2 separate regions of the Homo sapiens genome follow, and region 2 is linked to region 1. The links come from fine-mapping of genetic effects on gene expression. A gene starts in region 1. The other region holds a variant in brackets. All regions are shown on one strand. Distances are between the middles of the regions. Region 1 holds the start of NPLOC4 (NPL4 homolog, ubiquitin recognition factor). Region 2 overlaps NPLOC4 (NPL4 homolog, ubiquitin recognition factor).

Evidence for each region.
Region 2: its variant is fine-mapped to the expression of NPLOC4 in whole blood (INTERVAL, PIP above 0.99). The same link has a PIP of 0.9 or more in fibroblasts.

The regions. Positions count from the first base shown.
Region 1 is chr17:81,633,267-81,644,060 of GRCh38, forward strand. NPLOC4 (NPL4 homolog, ubiquitin recognition factor) reads right to left here and starts at 3,846. Exons shown (of 17, transcript NM_017921.4): 1 at 3,650-3,846. The coding sequence starts at 3,664. It overlaps TSPAN10 (tetraspanin 10), which reads left to right and starts at 3,930. Exons shown (of 4, transcript NM_001290212.2): 1 at 3,930-4,140; 2 at 9,041-9,182. The coding sequence starts at 9,147. RefSeq lists a silencer at 3,576-3,785.
Region 2 is chr17:81,553,088-81,563,863 of GRCh38, forward strand. NPLOC4 (NPL4 homolog, ubiquitin recognition factor) reads right to left here. Exons shown (of 17, transcript NM_017921.4): 17 at 3,800-6,329. The coding sequence ends at 6,172. It overlaps LOC124904085 (a long non-coding RNA gene), which reads left to right. Exons shown (of 2, transcript XR_007065947.1): 2 at 1-4,232. It also overlaps a transcript of FAAP100 not described here. Among named protein-coding and RNA genes, the nearest start is that of FAAP100, 6.1 kb to the left of the region's middle. RefSeq lists silencers at 113-192, 203-272 and enhancers at 322-897, 5,624-6,125, 6,126-6,625, 7,902-8,001. The variant A/G (reference allele first, on the strand shown) is at 5,547.

The DNA.
Region 1 (10,794 bases):
AAATCTGTCTGCCAACACTTAGCTATCTTAAAAAGGAAAGCTCTGTTCTAATGAAGGGGAACATGTGAATGTTCCTTCAAACGATGACTCTGGAACAAGAGCATGTTACCGCCATTCTTTACAGAGCTAAATGGTTCAGGCTGCAGAATTCTAAGGTGAAGAAGTCATCCTACTTGATCCTCTACCACAGAAGATGGGAGTCCAGGTTTCCAAGGCCAACTCCAGTATTTAACAAGAGACAAACATAATTTGTACGATGGAAAGTTCTGGCCTAGCCTCTGACACAGACTACAAAATGAAATACACAGGAAGAGACAGACCTGACAACATGAACACACAGCCTCTTGGTAACTTAAGTTTCCCTATTTATAAGAAAATAAGACTAGAACGCTTCTTGGGGAAGTTGAAGAACTGGTGAGATACAGTTAAATCCACAGAAACTCTTTTCTCCCCCCAAGACAGAGTCTTGCTCTGTCACCCAGAGTGGGAGTGCGATGGCGCGACCTCGGTTCACTGCAACCTTTGCCTGCCGAGTTCAAGCAATTCTCTTGCCTCAAGCCTCCCAAGTAGCTGGGATTATAGGCGCCCGCCACCGCGCCCAGCTAATTTTTTTTTTTTTTTTAAGAGTCTCACTCTGTCACCCAGGCTGGAGTGCAGTGGTGCGATCTCGGCTCACTGCAATCTCCGCCTCCCGGGTTCTAACTTTTCTGCCTCAGCCTCCTGAGTGGCTGGGACTACAGGTGCACGCCACCACGCCCGGTTAATTTTTTGTATTTTTTTTTTTTAGTAGACGTGGGGTTTCACCGTGTTGCCCAGGCTGGTCTCAAACTCCTGAGCTCAGGCAATCCACCTGCCTCGGCCTTCCAAAGTGCTAGGATTACAAACGTGAGCCACCACGCCCTAATTTTTGTATTTTTAGTAAAGACGTGGTTTCACCATGTCGGCCAGGCTGGTCTCAACTCCTGACCTCATTATTCACCTGCCTCGGCCTCTCAAAGTGCTGGGATTACAGGTGTGAGCCACCATGCCCAGCCCAGAAACTTTTCAAAAGATCTCTTTCTTAAATTCAAAATAACTTTTTAAATCAATTTCAAAAGAAGAGTGTTTTAATTCCTCACAATCTGAGACATTCAACGAGATCCAATGCTGTCAATGAGAGCCTAGCCTTATACACTAGTGGGAAAAAAAAAATGGCCTTGTCTGAAACACTTTTCACTTGTCAATGGTTATTTTAACTCAGTTAAAAGTACAAAGGTAGTTTGAAAGAAGGTTTCAGTGCTAATTCCTAACCTATTTCTAGGCAAAGTCACCAATGATTAACACTTTTTTTTTTTTTTTTGAGACAGTCTTGCTCTGTCGCCCAGGCTGGAGTGCAGTGGCGCAATCTGGGCTCACTGCAACCTCCACCTCCCGGGTTTGAGCGATTCCCCTCCCTCAACCTCCAGAGTAGCTGGGATAACAGGTGCATGCCACCACACCCGGCTAATTTTTTATTTTTAGTAGAGACAGGGTTTCACCATGTTGGTCAGGCCAGTCTTGAACTCCTGACCTCGTGATCCGCCCACCTCGGCCTCCCAAAGTGCTGGGATTACAGGCGTGAGCCACTGCATGGCCACATTTTATTTTTCAAAGGAGTCAAAGGTTTCTTGGCCGGGCATGGTAGCTCAGGACTGTAATCCTAGCAATTTTGGGACCCCAAGGTAGGAGGATCCCTCGAGCTCAGAGACCAGCCTGTACAACATAGTAGAGACCTCATCTCTATAAAAAAATGTTTTTAATTAAAAAGATTTAAAGGCCAGGCGCGGTGGCTTATGCCTGTAATCCCAGCATTTTGGTATGCCAAGGCGGGCGGATCACGAGGTCAGAAGTTCGAGATCAACCTGGCCAACACGGTGAAACCCCATCACCACTAAAAATAAAAAAGACATCAGCCATGCGTGTTGGCGAGCACCTGCAACCCCAGCTACTCGGCTGAGGCAGGAGAATTTCTTGAACCCGAGAGGCGGAGGTTGCAGTAAGCAGAGATCGCACCACTGAACTCCAGCCTGGGCGACAGAGTGAGACTCCATCTCAAAAAAATAAAATAAGGTTAAAAAAAAAAAAAAAAAAGGAGTCGACGTTTCCTAAGTTTCTCCTGGGCCATATATTCATTCCACTCATCTCCAGGTTGGGAAACATGGAGGCACCAAGAGGGCCCCTGACTGGAGAGATGATGGAACCACCAGAGAACAGCCTTGCAAATAAGTGCTAGGTTCTCCTGGAGACCCATTTGTTTGTGTGTGTGAGACAGTCTCATTCTGTCGCCCAGGGTGGAGTCCAGTGACGCCACCTAGGCTCACTATGTTGTCCAGGCTGGTCTTGAACTCCTGACCTCAGGTGATCCACCCACCTGGGCTTCCCAAAGTGCTGGGATTACAGGTGTGAGTCACCGCGCCGGGCCTGGAGACCTATTCTAGACAACACCTGGCAAAACTGCAGAGACTGTCACAATGCTACAGTATGAACATTACTCTTCACCCAATACTGCTAAGCTTCCCCCAGAAATCCCAAATCTTCCTTAATATTAACCAAAATGCTCCTGTCCAATGGTCAGTTAGTTTTTTTCCCATCACATTTACTTTTGGGAAGAAACTTCTCACAACTTAACGAGGGACTGGTTTTCTGATTTGTCACTGATATTTTTTACGTTAAGGAGGAGTGTGTGACAATTTTTTTTTTTTTTTTGAGACGCAGTCTCGCTCTATAGCCCAGGCTGGAGTGCCATGGAGGGATCTCAGCTCACTGTAACCTCCACCTCCCGCGTTCAAGCAATTCTCCTGCCTCAGCCTCCCAAGTATCTGGGATTACAGTGCGCCATGACGCCCGGCTAATTTTTTGTATTTTTAGTAGAGACAAGATTTTGCCATGTTGGCCAGGATGGTCTCGAACTCCTGACCCCAGGTGATCCACCCGCCTCGGCCTCCCAAAGTGCTGACATCACAGGCGTGAGCCACTGCGCCGGGCCGACAATTTCAATTTCAGGTAAAAAGTGAAATCAACATCATTTACAACATTCCTTTTAAAGAGGAATTGTCAAGTTGTCCTTCCAAGTAAGGAGCAAAGCCGGCAAGTTACTGTGTTTTCATTTTCCCAGGTCTTCTGGTGGGGAGGGAGCTCTGTAACGTCCCCGTCTGCAGAGCTGCTCTCCTTAGTGACTCATGACAAGGCACTTGCTGGGAAGCGGGAGAGCAGGAGGAGAGAATCAGAGGGAGATTAGGATAAGAGGTGTCCCTGGCTCTGAGAGGGGCAGGACTGGCTGGGAGTCCCTGGAATTAGACCAGGAAGTCTCCTGGAGCCGGGAAACGGGTGGGGAAGGAGGGCGGTTTCTCTTCGCCACAGTCCATTCTCCCTGCTTAGAAAGGCTCGGCCTTTCCCTGCCCAGGGCGGGGAACCGGGGTCGTAAGTCCCCTGGGGAGGGACACGGACGGGAAGCAGCCGAGGGGGGTGAAAGTCCCCGAGAGGGGCCCAGCCACTACAGAGAAAGCCCTGGCGAGAGAAGAGAAAGGGGCCGAGTCGCGGCGCCGGCAGGCCCGCCTCCCCCACAGGCCGAGGCCGGCAAATCTGCTGCCTCATCCCGGCGTCCCCGCTCCCGCCCGGCCGCCGCACTCACGATGCTCTCGGCCATGGCGGCTGCTCCTGCCTCCGGGCTCGAGCCCCGGGCCGCCGCCGCCTGCCGCCCCAAGGGCCTCGCAGACCCGGCCGCGGCCTCAGCCCCGGCCCCGGCCTCCCTACGCCGCCGCCACCGCCGCTCCAGCTTCGCCCGCCCGGCTCCGCCAGCCGCCGACGTCCCGGTGCCTCGCTCAATACGCTCCCCTCGGGCGCGAGGCCGGGAAACCAGGTTCCGGCCCCACCAACGGCTCGACGCATGCGCAGGGCGGCGCCGCTGACCCGCCCCCGCCATCCCTGCAACTGGAGGAGGGGATTTTGGAAAGTTGCGTCTGAGATTACTTCTGCTCGTCCTCGGAAACCCAAGCGGCACAGGAAAGTCCAAAAAGGAAGCAAAGACGAGCATCCGAAGTCTCACCCAAAAATAACTACTGCTGCGTATTATAGCGTATTATAATTGGGGAAACAGCATTCCAAACTTCTCTCCATGCACAGGTAAGTAGAGAAACAATTTCAGGAAGGCAGGATCACACCTTCATGTTTTTTTTTTTAAGTATTTTTTAAATTTAACATAAGAAAAACAAACGAGTTTAAACTGCATTTCAGGCCGGGCGCGGTGGCTCATACCTGTAATCCCAGCATTTTGGGAAGCCAAGGTGGACGGATCACCTGAGGTCAAAAGTTCGAGACCAGCCTGGCCAAAATGGTGAAACCCCGTCTCTACTCAAAATACAAAATTAGGCCATACGCGGTGGCTCACGCCTGTAATCCCAGCACTTTGGGAGGCCGAGGCAGGTGGATCACCTGAGGTCAGGAGTTCAAGACCAGCCTGACCAACGTGGTGAAACCCCGTCTCTACTAAAAATACAAAAATTAACTGGGCGTGGTGGCGGGCACCTGTAATCCCAGCTACTCGGGAGTCTGAGGCCGGAGAATCTCTTGAAGCGAAGAGGCGGAGGTTAGAATGAACTGAGTTGGTGCCACTGCACTCCAGTCTGGGCGACAGAGTGAGACTTCATCTCAAAAAAAAAAAAAAAAGACGTCACTTCACAGATTCTAAGGATTTTTGGAGTTGGATACCAGGAAACCGGAAGACTAAATGTATACATATTTCACAACATCACAATTACTGTGACAGTTTTTTTAAACTATGTTAAATTACATTAATTGATTAAATTATGTTAGTAATTGTATTAGTTTGCTCAGGGTGCCACTGTAACTACCCAACATATTGTCCCTGCCCACTGCCTAGACTTTATCAAGACAGGGGAATTGCAATAAAGAGTTTAATTCACACAGAGCCAGCTTGTACAGGTTACTGAGGTTTTATTACTACTCAAAAAAAATTAGTGTCCTTGAGAATTCAGGGATCAGAGTTTTTTGTTTTTTGTTTTTTTTTGTTTTTGAGTCCGAATCTCACTCTGTCACCCACACTGGAGTGCAGTGGCGCGATCTCGGCTCACTGCAACCTTCACCTCCTGGGTTCCAGTGATTCTCCTGCCTCAGCCTCCCGGGTAGCTGGGACTACAGGCGCACACTACCATGCCTGGCTAATTTTGTATTTTTCGTAGAGACGGAGTTTCTCCATGTTGGTCAGGCTGGTCTTGAACTCCTGACCTCAGGTGATCCGCCCACCTGGGCCTCCCCAAAGTGCTGGGACTATAGACGTGAGCCACCGTGCCCGGCTGGGGATCCGCGGTTTTAAGGATAATTTGGTGGGTATGGGGTCAGAAAGTAGGGAGTGTTGATTGGTTGGGTCAGAGGTGAAATGATAGGGAGTCAAAACTGTCCTCTTGTGCTGAGTCGGTTCCTGGGTGGGGGCCACAAGATATGAGCCAGTTTATCAATCTGGGTGGTGCCAGCTGATCCATGGAGTGCAGAGTCTGCAAAATATCTCAAGCGCTGATCTGTTTTTTAATAGTGATGTTATCCTGAGAAGCAATTTGGGAGGTTTAGAATCTTGTAGCCTCCAGCTACATGACTCCTAAACCATAATTTCTAATCTTATGGCTAATTTGTTAGTCCTGAAAAGGCAGTCTTGTCCCCAGGTAGGAAGGGAGTTTGTTTTGCAAAGGGCTGTTACCATCTTTGTTTCAAAGCTAAACTATAAACTAAGCGCCTCCCGAAGTTATTTCAGCCTACACCCAGGAATGAACAAGGACAGCTTGGAGGTTAGAAGCAAGATGGGTTCAGTTAAGTCCGATCTCTTTAACTGTAATAATTATCTCAGTTATAAGAAAATATAACATAACAAAATCTCTCACAGACTGGGTGGTGGTTTGGAATTACTTTTCTTTTTTTTTTTTTTTTTTTTTGAGTCGGATCTCCCTCTGTCGCCCAGGTTGGAGTGCAATGGCGCGATCCCAGCTCACTGCAACCTCCGCCTCGTGGGTTCAAGCGATTCTCCTGCCTCAGCCTCCTGAGTAGCTGAGATTACAAGCGTGCGCTACCACGCCCGGCTAATTTTTATATCTTTAGTAGAGACAGGGTTTCACCATGTTGGTAAGGCTGGTCTCGATCTCCTGACCTCGTGATCCACCCGCCTCAGCCTCCCAAAGTGCTGGGATTATAGGCATGAGCCACCATGCCCGGCCTGGAATTACTTCCTAACAGTCCTGGAAGCTAGAATCCCAGATCAAGGTGTCAGTAGACGTGGTTTCTCCTTTGTTTTCTTCTTTTTTTTTTCTTTTAAGGCTGGGGTCTTGGCCGGGCGCGGTGGCTCACGCCTGTCATCCCAGCGCGGTGGCTCACGCCTGTCATCCCAGCACGGTGGCTCATGCCTGTCATCCCAGCGCGGTGGCTCACGCCTGTCATCCCAGCACTTTGAGAGGCCGAGGCAGGTGGATCACGAAGTCAGGAGATCGAGACCATCCTGGCTAATATGGTGAAACCCTGTCTCTATTAAAAATAAAAAAAAAATTAGCCGGGCGTGGTGGCGGGTGCCTGTAGTCCCAGCTACTCGGGAGGCTGAGGCAGGAGAATGGCGTGAACCCGGGAGGCAGAGCTTGCAGTGAGCCGAGATCACGCCACTGCGCTCCAGCCTGGGCGACAGAGCAAGACTCCGTCTCAAAAAAAAAAAAAAAAGAAAAGACTGGGGTCTCACTCCCATCGCCGAGGCTGGAGTGCAGTGGCACAATCGTGGCTCACTGTAGCCTCGACTTCCCAGGCTCAGGTGATACTCCCACCTCAGCCTCCTCAGTAGCTGGGACCACAAGTGCTCACAATCACACCTGGCTAACTTTTTGTATTTTTAGTAGAGATGGGATCTTGCTATGTTGCCCAGGCTGGTCTCTAACTACTACTAGGTTCAATCAATCCACCCACCTCAGCCTCCCAAAGTGCTTAGATTACAGGCATAAGCCGCTGTACCCAGCCAGGTTTCTTCTTATACCTCTCTCCTTAGCTCGAAGATGGCACCTTCTCCCCGAGACCTCACATGTTTTTTCTTCTGTGCACACATTCCTCGTGTCTCTCCATGTGTCCCACCGTGTGTCCCAATTTTCTTGTAAGGATGTTGGATTAGGGCCCACGCTAATGGCACTTATTTATTTATTTAGGGATGGAGTCTTGCTCTGTCACCAGGCTGGAGTGCAGCGGCACCATCTCGGCTCACTGCAACCTCTGCCTCCTGGGTCCCAGCAATTCCCCTGCCTCAGCCTCCCATGTAGCTGGGATTACAGGCATGCGCCACGATGCCCAGCTAATTTTTTGTACTTTTAGTAGAGACAGGGTCACACCATGTTGGCCAGGCTGGTCTCAATCTCCTGACCTCATGATCCACCTGCCTCGGCCTCCCTAAGTGCTGGAATTACAGGTGTGAGCTACCGCGCCCAGCCCCTAATGGCCTTTAAAGGCCCTGTCTCCAAGTCCCATTCTGAGGTCCGGGGGGCTAGAACTTTATCATAAGAATGTAAGGGGCACAATTCAGCCATAACAGTGGTAGATGATGATCGTTTCATTAAAAGATTACCCAGACTTTGGCCGGGCGTGGTGGCTCACGCCTGTAATCCCAGCACTTTGGGAGGAGGAGGCGGGCAGATCACTTGAGGTCAGGAGGTCGAGACCAGACTGGCCAACATGGTGAAACCCCATCTCTACTAAAAATACAAAATCAGTCAGGTGTGGCGCCTGCAATCCTAGTTACTCAGGAGGCCAAGGCAGGAGCATCGCTTGAACCCAGGAGGCAGAGGTTGCGGTGAGTCAAAATCGTGCCACTGCATTCCAGCCTCAGCAACAGAGCGAGACTCTTGTCTCAAAAAAAAAAAGGTTACCCATCCTTAGAACAGACTGAGTTGGAGGCCGTGGACAGTCCCTGTGACCGTGACCCTGGCTGTGGAGCTGCTGCAGGGCCCATGAGGTTGGGTTTGTCACCTTTGGGGAGGTGAAGGGAAGCTGGAGCCCAGAAGCTCAGCCTGCAGCTCTGGTCCTCGCCCCGACTTCCCACCTGCAGCATATCCCACTTCTCCGAGGAAGATCTGAAGACTCAGAGTGGCCTTCAAGGCCTCACCTGATCCAGCCCTGTCACCTCATGGACCTCCCTCCCACCCCCATCTCCGCTTGCCCCACACAGCCAGGTGACCTTTCCTCCTAAAACTTGCCCGGTGTGCTCCCACCCAGGCGTCTCACGCGCGCCTGAAACCCTCTGCCTGCTCCATCAGTACATTGCCTGCTGTGCTGCACCACCCAGACCACCTCTTTGGACTGCTGAGTGTTGGTGGCTGAGTCCGGGCACAGTGGCTCCAGCCTGTAATCCCAGCACTTTGGAAGGCCAAGGCAGGAGAATCACTTGAGTCCAGGGGTTCAAGACCAGCCTGGGCAGCACAGCAGAACCCTGTCTCTACAAAAAAAATTCAAAAATGAGTGAGGCAAGGTGGCGTACATCTGTAGTCCCGGGAGGCGAGGTTGCAGTGAGCCGAGATTGCGCCATTGCACTCCAGCCTGGGCAACAAGAGCGAAACTCAGTCTCAAAAACAAAAACAAGGAGGTGATCTGGTGGGGGGACGCTGTTTCATTCGTGCAGTGAACAAGCCGGGGGATAGATTGGCGCTGGGGCTGCCCATGGGTCTCTTGGGATTGGGGTTGTGAACCAATTTACCAGGGTCTGATTCCCTGGTTGGGAGCTGATGGAGCGGCTGCTGACCCTGCAGAGCTGAAGTCCGCATGGGGGGCTGCAGTGAGAGCCACAAGGCTGGCACCCAAACATGCCTGCCTGAGTCACACCTGCGCTGAGCTTAGGGGACCCACAGAGCCAGGGCTGGGGAGAAATATATCTCCACAAGCAGAGGCCTCCTTAAGCTCTAAAATGTGATTCTTCACATGACTCAACTGTGACTCCGGCATCTGGGTAGGGCTCGCACCTCCCCCATTCCCATGCCCAGGGCTGCACTGTTCACAGACTAGCCCAGGGCCGCAGTCAGGACCAGCCCAGCAGCCCAGCCACAGAGGAGCCAGCGAACCTCTCCCGGCGCCTGTGCTGGGGGCTTTCTGTTCCAGCGTCAAGGATGGAGGAGGGGGAGAGGAGCCCCTTACTGTCCCAGGTGAGCCATGCCAAGTGGCCTTGCCCTGAGGTTGGAGATGTCCCCAGCCCTGAAGTCCTAAGGGAAGTCCCTGGGCTGGGTTCACACCCACCCCTGCCCCTGGTGCCACCCCACACCTCAATGCTGAGATTGGGTTGAGGGGGGTGGTTCTAGGCAGCCCCCTCCCCCTTCCCCACTGCGCAGTTCTCTCAGCCCCATGCTGGCCTCTGGTCAAGGGATCTGCCAGATCTCCCTGAGGGCCTTGGGGGCAATCTTTGGCTCAGGGTGCAGGAGGGGGTGAAGGCAAATGTCCCTTGCAGCCAGCCTCCAACGGCCTCTGGCCCCCAGTGGCCCCAGTCTGGCCAACCAGGCACTGACAGCCTGTCCTTTTGCTTCTAGTGACTTGTTGAGGTCTTGGGGGTGATAAATAACCCTCCTCTGGGGCCGGGCACAGTGGCTCACTCCTGTAATCCCAGCACTTTGGGAGGCTGAGGAGGGAAGATTGCGTGAGCCCAGGAGTTCAAGACCAGCCTGGGCAATGTAGCGAGACCCTGTCTCTACAAAATATTATATATATATATATATATATATATATTTAGATAGAGTCTCGCTCTGTCACCAGGCTGGAGTGCAGTGGCACAACCTCGGCTCACTGCAACCTCCGCCTCCTCGGTTCAAGCAATTCACATGCCTCAGCCTGCTGAGTAGCTGGGATTACAGGCACATGCCACCACACCCAGCTAATTTTTTTTAGTCGAGACAGGGTTTTACCATGTTGGCTAGGATGGTCTCGATCTCCTGACCTCGTGATCCACCCGCCTCGGCCTCCCAAAGTGCTGGGATTACAGGCATGAGCCACCGTGCCCGGCCTACAAAAAATAATTTTAAAAAATTACCGGGACGGCCGGGCGCGGTGGCTCACGCCTGTAATCCCAGCACTTTGGGAGGCCGAGGCGGGCGGATCACGAGGTTAGGAGATCGAGACCATCCCGGCTAAAACGGTGAAACCCTGTCTCTACTAAAAATACAAAAAATTAGCCGGGCGTAGTGGCGGGCGCCTGTAGTCCCAGCTACTTGGGAGGCTGAGGCAGGAGAATGGCGTGAACCCGGGAGGCGGAGCTTGCAGTGAGCCGAGATCCCGCCACTGCACTCCAGCCTGGGCGACAGAGCGAGACTCCGTCTCAAAAAAAAAAAAAAAAAAAAAAAATTACCAGGACATGGTTGCAGTGCCTGTAGTCCCAGCTACTCAGGAGGCTGAGGAGGAAGGATGGCTTGAGCCCAGGAGTTTGAGGCTGCAGTGAGCTGAGAGCCTGATGCTGTGATCAGCTTCTTCCTGGTGAAACTGGATTGGAATGGGATCCTTGCCCAGCACACAGCCATGGCTGCTTTTTATTATTTATTTAGTTTTTGAGATGGAGTCTCGCTCTGTCACCCAGGCTGGAGTGCAGTCACGCGATCTCTGCTCATGCAACCTCTGCCTCCTGCTCATGCAACCTCCACCTCCTGGGTTCAAGCGATTCTCCTGCCTCAGCCTCCCAAGTAGCTGGGATTACAGGTGTGTGCCACCACGCCCGGCTAATTTTTTTTTTTTTTTTTTTTTTAGTAGAGATGAGGTTTCTCCACGTTGCTCAGG
Region 2 (10,776 bases), 80 kb before region 1:
GGAGGGGCCTGCAGTACGGACACCTGCTCCATGCCCGGAAGAGAGCGGAAACCAGGCACACCATTCACAAGTAAATGACCAAGGAACCCCGCCCCCGGCCCGCCTCCCTCCGTTTAAGAAGCCAATCTGAAGAGCGCTAAGGCCAGACACCCTCGAGGGAGAATCTAGGGGCAGGGCTGCAAAACTGGGCTTGGAAGTTAGGCAGACATCGTGGAGTCCGGGTGCACCTGCTGGAGCACAAAGCACCACTTGCAGACATCCTGACCGCCCCCCTTTGAGGTTGGGGTGGGGACTGACCCCAAGGCAACGGGGATGTCTGATTCTGAATGTTGGGTTAGACAGACTCAAGTGCGGCACCTGGAGTCAGTTCCTTGCTCCTCTCTTCTCGCCAGGGCTGCTCTGAAGGTGTTTGGGCTGGAAATGCTGTCTTTGATGCTGGGGAGTGGGGAGAGGAGGGCCAGGTGCATCTCATTTGGCCTTCAGAGTCAGGAAGTCAGATGCCGCATCGTTGTGAATTTCCCCACAGGGATCCTCCGCTGGTCTTCTGACCGAATTTCCCCACAGGAATCCGCAGGTCTTCTGACTGCTAGTTTTAACCCTCTGAAGCCTTGTGAGTCACTCGCTCACACACACCAACCCCATCCAGTCCTCCCAGGCCATCTCTTCCATACGGATGGTAACATGCCAAGACTGTCCTAGAGGAAATGATCACGATCACGTGGAGGAGGAAACGGACGTGGGAGAAGGCCCGCCAAACCAGCAGCCTCACCCCGCGGTTTACTCCGCTGCCCACCCCACTCTGCTCCGGGGGCTGGCAGGCTTTTGGCCCCACGCCAAGCCCAGCTCCTATCTGCAACAAGATTTATGATCAGTAGTCATGTGGGGGACCTTAAGCATGGATCCCAGGGGAAAGGGGGTGAGTTAGACACAAGCGAAGGGCTGAAGGCCGGCTCTCCATCAGCTGCTGGGCTGTGCCGTGCCCCACCTGTACTTGGCGAAGAGTGATGAGGGCTGAGGCAGCCTCTCTGTCCGTGGGTGTGGAAGATGCACACACTCCTAGCGGAAGCCTTCGAGACAGCAGCGCAGACCGCTGGACACTGCGTTTCTATGCCCAACTTGGAGGTGTTATCATCTCCCTAAGCACGAAGTATATGAAGGAGTCAATTTAGGTCAGACTGAGGGGAGAAAAACCATGAAGCTTCAGGCTGTGTTGAGGGCGAGGAGGGCTGGGCCTTGAGGGACCTCTCCTCAGAGCAGCACAGCCCAATAAGGAGAACACAGCAGGAAGGTGAGGCAGGGACCCAGGAACCCGACTTCTCCCTTTTTTTTTTTTTGACACACACAGGTTCTCACTGTGTCTCCCAGGCTAGAGTGTAGTGGCACAGTCTCGGCTCACTGCAGCCTCAACACCCCAGGCTCAAGCCAACCTCCTGCCTCAGCCTCCCGAAAAGCTGGACTATAGGTGCACACTACCACGCCAGGCTAATTTTTTGTCTTTTTTAATAGAGACAGGGTTTCGCCATGTTGGCCACGTTGGTCTCGAACCCCGGGCCTGAGTTCTATTTCTAAGCAGTACAATTTGCTTGATTTAATGGGGGAGTGGCATCCAGAACTGTTTTAAATTTTTTAATTTTGGCCAGGCACGGTGGCTCATGCCTGTAATCCCAGCACTTTGGGAGGCCGAGGCGGGCAGGATCACAAGGTCAGGAGATCGAGACCATCCTAGCTAACACAGTGAAACCCCGTCTCTACTAAAAATACAAAAAAATTAGCTGGGCATAGTGGCGGCGCCTGTAGTCCCAGCTACTCGGGAGGCTGAGGCAGGAGGATGGTGTGAACCCGGGAGGCGAGCTTGCAGTGAGCCGAGATCACGCCACTGCACTCCAGCCTGGATGACAGATTAAAAAAAATTTTTTTTTAATTTTTTGAGACAGTCTTTTTTTTTTTTTGAGATGGAGTCTCACTCTGTCGCCCAGGCTGGATGGAGTGCAGTGGTGCCATCTCGGCTCACTGCAAGCTCTGCCTCCCAGGTTCACGCCATTCTCCTGCCTCAGCCTCCCGAGTAGCTGGTATTACAGGCACCTGCCACCATGCACGGTTAATTTTTTTGTATTTTTAGTAGAGACGGGGTTTCATTGTGTTAGCCAGGATGGTCTCCATCTCCTGCCCTCTTGATCCGCCTGCCTCGGCCTTCCAAAGTGCTGGGATTACAGGCATGAGCCACCACGCCTGGCCTATTTTTTGAGACAGAGTCTTACACTGTTCAGGTTGGAGTGCAGTGGCATAAACTCGGCTCACTGCAACCTCTGCCTCCTAGGTTCAAGCAGTTCTCCTACCTTGGCCTCCCAAGTAGCTGGGATTACAGGCGCACACACATCACTACACTGGCTAATTTTTTCTATTTTTTAGTGGAGATTGGGTTTCACCATGTTGACCAGGCTAGTCTTGAATTCCTGACCTCAAGTGATCCACCAGCCTTGGCCTCCCCAAAGTGGTGGGATTGTAGGTGTGAGCTGCCACACCCAGTTTTTTTGTTTTTTTTGTTTGAGACAGTCTTGCTCTGTTGCCCAGGCTGGAGTGTGCAGTGGCACAGTCTCAGCTCACTGCAACCTCTGCCCCCGGGGTTCAAGTGATCCTCCAGCCTGGGCCTCCCAAGTAGCTGAGATTACAAGTGTGCACCACCAGGCCCATCTAGTTTTTGTATTTTTAGTAGAGACAGGGTTTCACCGGGTTGGCCAGAACTTCTGACCTCAGGTGATCCACCTGCCTCGGCCTCCCAGAGTGCTGGGATTACAGGTGTGAGCCACTGCGCCCGGCTTTTATCTTTACATCGAACCAAAGAGGATGCCAAGGATCTTCACTGGCTCTCACATAAGACGGCCATGATCAGGTACTGGCTCACTGCATGGCCCAGGCTGCTGCTTTCTCTGATACAACCTCCCCGAGCCTCCTCACCTCAGCTTTTTAAATTTTTTTTCAGACAGGGTCTCACCCCGTGGCCCAGGCTGGACTTGCGATCACAGCTGGCTGCAGCCTCAACCTCCTGGGCTCAAGCGATCCCAGGAGCTGTGGGTAAATCGAGTGAACTGCACTGTGTTGAAGGTGCAGGATTGGAGTCCGGGTGCTGGGGGACTCACCCTCTCGCTCCTGGAGTCCAGAAGCCAGGACACCTTGGTCACTGTCCTGTGGCCTGCTTCACCCCAGGGCCCTCCTTCAGAAATTAGTTGGAGTTTTTTTTAGTAACTGCTCAAGTCAGCTATGAGTCACTGACCAAAGGACAAAGTGGTGCTGAACAGTGACTGCCAGGCTCCTATCTGAGGCTCAGAGAGCACTTGTTCTAGACGCTTTCTGTTGTCACAGGGAAAGACAGCTCAAGCAGGAACACAGGCAGTGTGTCACCCCCAGGCCTCACTCCTTGCTGCACCTGTGCAGTCTGGCCTTCCTGGGCTTTGTCCTTCACCTGCTGTTTGACCACATGTACCTGTCCACAAAGCAGTGACTGTGGGGCAGTCGCAGGGCTGACAGGTGCGGCAGAGGCAGAAGAGGCACCCAAGGGCGGCGGGGCCGTCAAACACTGACGCACTCTCCTCCTCCCCCAGATGTTAGCACTTTAAGAAACTTATCGAGGAGCCAAGGTTGGGAGGGATCGGCTGGGGAAGTGGGATCCCCACCTTTAAATGGACCATGCACATACACGTAAAACAGTGATATCTTGGAGACAAGTTATCAAATCCCCCCACACTGAGCAGATGCCAGACAACAGTTGAGTGCGCAGGAAGGACACACCAGGACCAGGCAGTTGCTTCAGGCGCTTTTATTAGGTTCCACTGCAGGGCTGGGGTCAATGTAATGCAAATCCAAGCCCAGTGATGCACACCTGTGAGCCGAAACAGAGCCGAAGCAGGAGCACCTGTGTCCCAGGAGCAGCTGGTTGGAGGGAGCCAGGGCCAGGCCCCACCTCCTCTCGGGACCAGGAGACTGGCAGCCGCTGTGTTCACCTGGGCAGGTGTGCACCCAGTCACCCCCACTGGATTATGGTGCTGGTAGCATGAGAGGGTGTGTCCACACCAAGGGCAGGTGAAGATGCGAGGTGGGGCTGAGACCTCCTTCCCACAAGAGGAGGTGGCTGAGCCTCCCAGGGCCTGAACTCTCACAGCAGGGCTCACCCCCAAGCCTGTATGCTTAGCTCTGACTCTCTTTGGACAATAAAATAAAGTGCATTACTGAACAAAGAGTAACTCAAAACCAGAATCAGACAAATCGCCAATGCTTTTCCTTTAGCTAAAAGACAAAAGAAAACATGAATGATGTGAATGCCGGAACTTCAGAGTAAGGGAAATGCTGGTGGAGGACAACGGAAACTATAATAGCGTGGTGGATAAGGACGAGCGAGTGGGAGAGGAACTGGCAACGCGGCTCTCTCTAGAAGTCCGTGCTGTCCAGCCTCTGCCCAGTGGTGGGGGAAGGCCTTGGACTCACAGGGAAGCAATGCAGGAAGCCTTGGCCACCTAGGCTCACAGCTCATCTCAGGACCAGAGGAGACAGCAGAGGACAAAACTTCAGTGTGACAGCTGCTAGGAGGGAGAGCAGACAGCCCGCGGTGGGCAAGCTGGGAGTTGCATCCGCAGCAGTCCGCTTCAACCCAGCTCCTCTCCACCCTTCCTGACCCTCCACAATAGCTCTGCCGTGACCAGACCCAACCCAACTGGCCCCTGGTCCCAAGAGCAGATGAGCTGCTTGGGCCTTCCACTTGGTGTCCCATGCCAGGCGGACCTGGAGGTGTCAGCCATGGCCCTGACCACTTCAGAAGCCAACAGGCAAATGTTCTCTGTTCATAGTGCCAAGAATGTGGGTCACGTGGGCTTACCCCCCAGGATGGACACAGAAGTCCCTAAGCAGTCTGCAGCTGGGCCAGCCTCTCCCGTGGGTGCAGAGCAGCCCAGATGTGGCCATCATTAAGGCAAAGAAGCATCGAGATGCCCACCACTCCCCGGGTAAGAGCCATGCCCCGGCCTGGCCACGCCACAGAGGAACGCAGAGCACACAAGCAGGACCCCACCACGTGCTGTTCCAGATCGCCCAGTCTCCCTCTATTGGTACACTATCAATTGTGCAGTGCCCCAGGGAGGTCCCAAATGGCCCTCACAAGAGGCACAGCCCCTAACGCCCTCAGCCAGGCGGTGCAGTGGGACGAAGCAGCGTATTGGGGAGGGCCAGAGCATCGGCACCGGTGACCCAGCTCTCCCACCCAGGCCATCGCAGGGCAGCCTCAGGGCAGGCGCCACCACTGCTCCTGCTCAGCCCGCAGTATCTGCAGTTGCTGCAGCTGTGTGGCTTGGTAGAAAAGTCTCAGGCACTGAGGTTTACTTCAAGGGAGAACTGACTGGTGCCCCCGTCCACACTCATCACCCTGGACACAACCTCGGGGGCTTCACTAAAGGAGGGAAGGATGTGGAAACTAGTCTCTCTCACTCCCCTTTTGTGCAGTTTTTATCTTAAAAAAAAATAAATAAAAGTCTTCTGGGCAGGAATTACTGATAACTGTT[A/G]TTATAACCAATGCAGACTTTAAAATCCCACCTGGACATCGGGTGAGAGGAGGAGGGCAGGCAGCAAACCGACCTGCAGACCTGCAGAGGGGAGCCGTGTCCAGGGCCACTGCGTCCCCACCAGACAACAGCTACTAGAAGAGGAAAGTGGCCCTCACAGGCAGGGTGCCTGCCACCAAGCAGTCAGACAAGGGGGTAACCAAGAGCTCCCAGCCAGAAAAACATGGGGGCAGGGAGGCCAAACAAAAAGCACTGAAAATAAAGAGAAGGCTGGGTGGTGGCAGCATCGGCCCCTCCCTGTGCGCCCCAATTCCAGGTGCCACGTAGAGGCGAGAGGTCTTTCCAACACGGCGGGGGACTTGTCAACAGGATTAGGCGTGAGGAGCCGCTCTGCGTTTCCAGTCTGGAGACTGCATTCAGCCTGCAGAATACCAGCCGTGGCGCCCGCTCTCCAGGGAGGAACGTGCTGAGAAGCTTCAGTGGGTCAGGGAGCCCAGGACAGCCAGCCCCTTGTTCCTCCAGGGCTGCCCACTATGGGGCAGTTACAGGGAACACACTCAGCAACGCTTCTGGCTTCAGGAAGGGCTGGGCTGGGCCCGGTCCTAGCCAGCAGAGGGCAGGCGCCCTAGGTCCTGGGGAGGCTGCACATCTCGCAGTGGCCTGTGCCTGGCTGGTTCATGAACGTGCAGTGCTGACAGGCCCACATGGCTGCAGTGGCCGTGTGTGTGGAGCCCCCGACGGCGCCGTACTCATGGAGACCTGGGAGCTGCCCGCCAACTGTGCCTGCAGGGTGGAAGAGAAATGAGCACTCATCATTTCTGGCCCACCAGAGACTGCCAGAGTGTGGGCATGGGGGCAGGGGCAGGCAGCTGAGAGCTCCCCGCCCCCAACATCCCACCCAGTGCTGGTCCTGCCCACACAGCACTCCCACCACAGGCACACTTTGAAGTGCTTAATGCCCTCAGAAAAATGCCTCCTGCACCACAGGGAGTAACAGGGAGCCTGTGCTTGCTGGTTCCTTTTTGTTGCAGAGGGTGCTTCTCCTTGTGAATAACGTAACTCCCCGGGGGATGTGCATTTGGGTTGTTTCCAGCTTTTTTTTTTTTTTTTTTTTTCTGAGGTAGGGTCTTGCTCTGTCACCCAGGCTGGAGTGCAGTGGCACGATCTCGGCTCACTGCAACCTCCACCTCCCGGGTTCAAGCGGTTTTCCTGCCTCAGCCTCCCAAGTAGCTGGGATTACAGGCATGAACCACAATGCCTGGCTAATTTTATCTATTTTTTGGTAGAACTAGGGTTTCACCATGTTGGCCAGGCTGGTCTCGAACTCCTGACCTCAGGTGATCCACCCACCTTGGCCTCCCAAAGTGCTGGGATTATAGGTATGAGCCACCATGCCCAGCCTCCAGTTTTGAGCTAATATGAACAAAGTTGCCAGGATCATTCTTCTACAATTTCTTTGTGGACCTGTGTTTTTATTTCTCTTGGATAAAAACAAAGAGTGAGGCTGGGTGCAGTGGGTCACGCCTGTAATCCCAGCACTTTGGGAGGCCGAGGCGGGTGGATCACTTGAAGTCAGGAGTTTGAGACCAGCCTGGCCAACATGGCGAAACCCGGTCTCTACTAAAAATAATTAGCCAGGCGTGGTGGTAGACACCTGCCGTTCCGGCTACTCAGGAGGCTGAGGAAGGAGAATCCCATGAACCCGGGAGGGGAAGCCTGCAGTGAGCCGAGACCCTGCCTCTTCACTCCAGCCTGGGCGACACAGCGAGACTCCATCTCAAAAACAAACAACAGGCCGGGCGCGGTGGCTCATGCCTGTAATCCCAGCACTTTGGGAGGCTGAGGTGGGCAGATCACAAATTCAAGAGATGGAGACCATCCTGGCTAACATGGTGAAACCCCGTCTCTACTAAAAATGCAAAAATTACCTGGGGGTGGTGGTGCGCACCTGTAATCCCAGCTACTAGGAAGGCTGAGGAAGGAGAATGGCGTGAACCTGGGAGGCGGAGGTTGCAGTGAACCGAGGTTGCAGTAAGCCGAGATCTCAAAACAAACAAACAAACAAACAACAACAACAAAAAACCTACCTAGGAATGAATCTGCCGGCCCACAGGGTAATGAATTGTGTGCTGAACTTTCTAAGACCCTGAGACACAGTTCTCGCGAGGGTGGCACGGTTTTGCCTCCCACTCGCAAGGTACGAGAGTCCCAGCTGCTTCACATCTTCACTCACACTTGACATTGTCGCGTTTTTTTCATTTCAGCCACACTGATGAATGTGTAACGGCTTCTCATGTTTTAATTTGCATTTCCCTGATGACTAATGATAGTGACTGTTCCTGCATCTCCTTTTTTTTGTTGTTGCCGAGGCTGGAGTGCAATGGCGCAATCTCGGCTCGCTGCAACCTCTGCCTCCTGGGTTCAAGCGATTCTCCTACCTCAGCCTCCCAAGTAGCTAGGATTACAGGCACGTGCCACCACACCTGGCTAATTTTTTTTATTTTTAGTAGAGATGGGTTTTCACCATGTTGGCCTGGCTGTCTCGAACTCCTGACCTCAAATGATCCACCGCCTCGGCCTCCCAAAGTGCTGGGATTACAGGCGTGAGCTACCATGCCCGACCTGCATTTCCTTTTGTGAAACGTTTCACCCTCCGCCCAGCTTCTTCTTCTGCTTTCTGTTTGATTAACAACAGGCAGAGTTATTTTTAAGTTTCAGATAGAAGTCATGTTGTGTGTATGTACTGCTAATACTGCGTCCCCCATTGGTGCCTTTTCATGTTTCTAACAGTGCCCTGTGATGAGCACAAGTGTTTTGTTTAGATAAATTTATTTATCAATTTACCTATTTTTATGCCAGTGTTTTTCTGTGTTCTACCCCAAGGTCCTGCATCCTGCCTAAAAGAATCTTTGCGTACCCCAAGGCCCTGAAGAGATTCAACTTAATAACTGTTTTACAGTTTTTATTTTTTTAAGACAGGGTATTGCTCTGTCATTCAGGCTGGAGTGGTATAATCATGGCTCACTGTGACCTCGACCTCCTGACTCATGGGATCCTCCCATTTCAGCCTCCCCAGAAGCTGGGATTATAGGCGTGGACCACTCACCATGCCCAGCTAATTCTTTTTTTTTTAATATTGTTTTTTTGTACAGACGGGGCTTCACTATGCTGTGTGGGCTGGTCTCACACTTCTGGGCTACAGTGTCCTCCAGCTTTGGCCTCCTAGAGTGTTAGGATTATAGCTATGAGACATCATGCCCAGCCTGCTTCATAGTTTTACCTTTTACCATTAGGCCTATGACCCATCCTGAGCTGATCTTTGTGTCTTGTGTATACACGTCTGTAATCCCAGCACTTTGGGAGACCGAGGCAGGTGGATCACCTGAGGTCAGGAGTTCCAGACCAGCCTGACCAACATGGTGAAACCCCATCTCTACTAAAAATATAAAAATTAGCCAGGCGTGGGTGCACGCCTGTAGTCCCAGCTACTCGGGAGGCTGAGGCAGGAGTATCACTTGAACCCAGGACGTGGAGGTTGCAGTAAGTGGAGATCATGAGATTGCACTGCAGCCTGGGTGACAGGGTGAGATTCCGTCTCAAAACAAAACAAAACAACCCATGAGGGCCGGGCGCGGTGGCTCACACCTATAATCCCAGCACTTTGGGAAGCCGAGGTGGGTGGATCACTTGAGGTCAGGAGTTTGAGACCAGCCTGGCCAACATGGAGAAACCCTGTCTCTACTAAAACTAAAAAAATTAGCTGGGTGTGGTGGCAGCCACCTGTAATTCCAGCTACTTAGGAGGCAGAGGCTGGACAATGGCTTGAACCCGGGAGGTGGAGGCTGCAGTGAGCTGAGATCACACTACTGCACTCCAGCCTGGGCAACAGAACAAGACTTTGTCTCAAAACAAACAAACAAAAAACCCATGAAAAAATGCCCAACATCACTAATCATCAGAGATGCAAATTAAAACCACAGTGAGATACCAGTCAGAACTTACACCAGTCAGAACTGCCTATTATTAAAGAGTTGGCTGGACATGGTGGCTTACCACTGCAATCTCAGCACTGAGGCGGGAGGATCGCTTGGGCCCAAGAGTTCAAGACCAGCCTGGGCAACATAGTGAGACCTCATCTCTACAACAAATTTAAAAAATCAGCCAGGGATGGTGGCACATGCTTGTAGTCCCAGCTGCTCAGGAGGCTGAGGCGGGAGGATTGTTTGAGCCTGGGGAGGTCAAGGTGAGACTGACCTCAAATGCCACTGCACTTCAGCCTGGGTGACAGAGTGAGAACCTGTCTCAAAAAAAAAAGGAGGGGGGAAAAAAAAAAGGTCAGGTGCAGTGGCTCACAGCTGTAATCTCAGCACTTTGGGAACCAAGGCAGGAAGATCACTTGAGCCTAGGAGTTTGAGACCAGCCTGGGCAACATGGCAAGACCACATCTTTTTTTTTTTTTTGAGACAGAGTCTTGCTCTGTCGCCCAGGCTGGAGTACAGTGGCACGATCTCAGCTCACTACAACCTACGCTTCCTGGGTCAAGTGATTCTCCTGCCTCAGCCTCCTGAGTAGCTGGGATTACAGGCGCTCGCCACCATGCCCAGCTAATTTTTGTAGTTTTAACAGAAATGGGGTTTCACCATGTTGGCCAGGATGGTCTCAATCCCTTGACGTTGTGATCCACCTGCCTCAGCCTCCCAAAGTGCTGGGATTACAGGTGTGAGCCAGCCACCGGGCCCGGCCAACCCTATCTCTTAAAGAAAAAAAAAAAACACCAACCAAAAACATTAGTTGGGTGTAGTGGCTCATGTTTATACTCCTAGGTACTCCGAAAGCTGATGCAGGAGGATCGCTTGAGCTCAGGAATTGAAGGCTGTAGTGAGCTATGATCACTCCACTGCACTCCAGCCTAGGCAACAGAGTGAAACCCTGTCTCTAAAAGGGAAACAAAAAAGAAAAAAAAAAAAAAGACTGGTGTCATTGTTAGAACTGCATCAAAGGGCTGGGTGCAGTGGCTCCCAGGTATAATCTCAGGACTTTGTGAGGCTGAGGTGCAAGGAATGCTTGAGGCCAAAGTTTGAGACCAGTCTGGGCAACACAGTGAGACCTCATTGATACAAAAATATTAAAAAATTTTGCAGCCATAAAAAGGAATGAAATCATGTCCTTTGCAGCAACATGGATGCAGTTGAAGGCCATTATTCTAAGCAAACTAATGCAGGAACAGCAA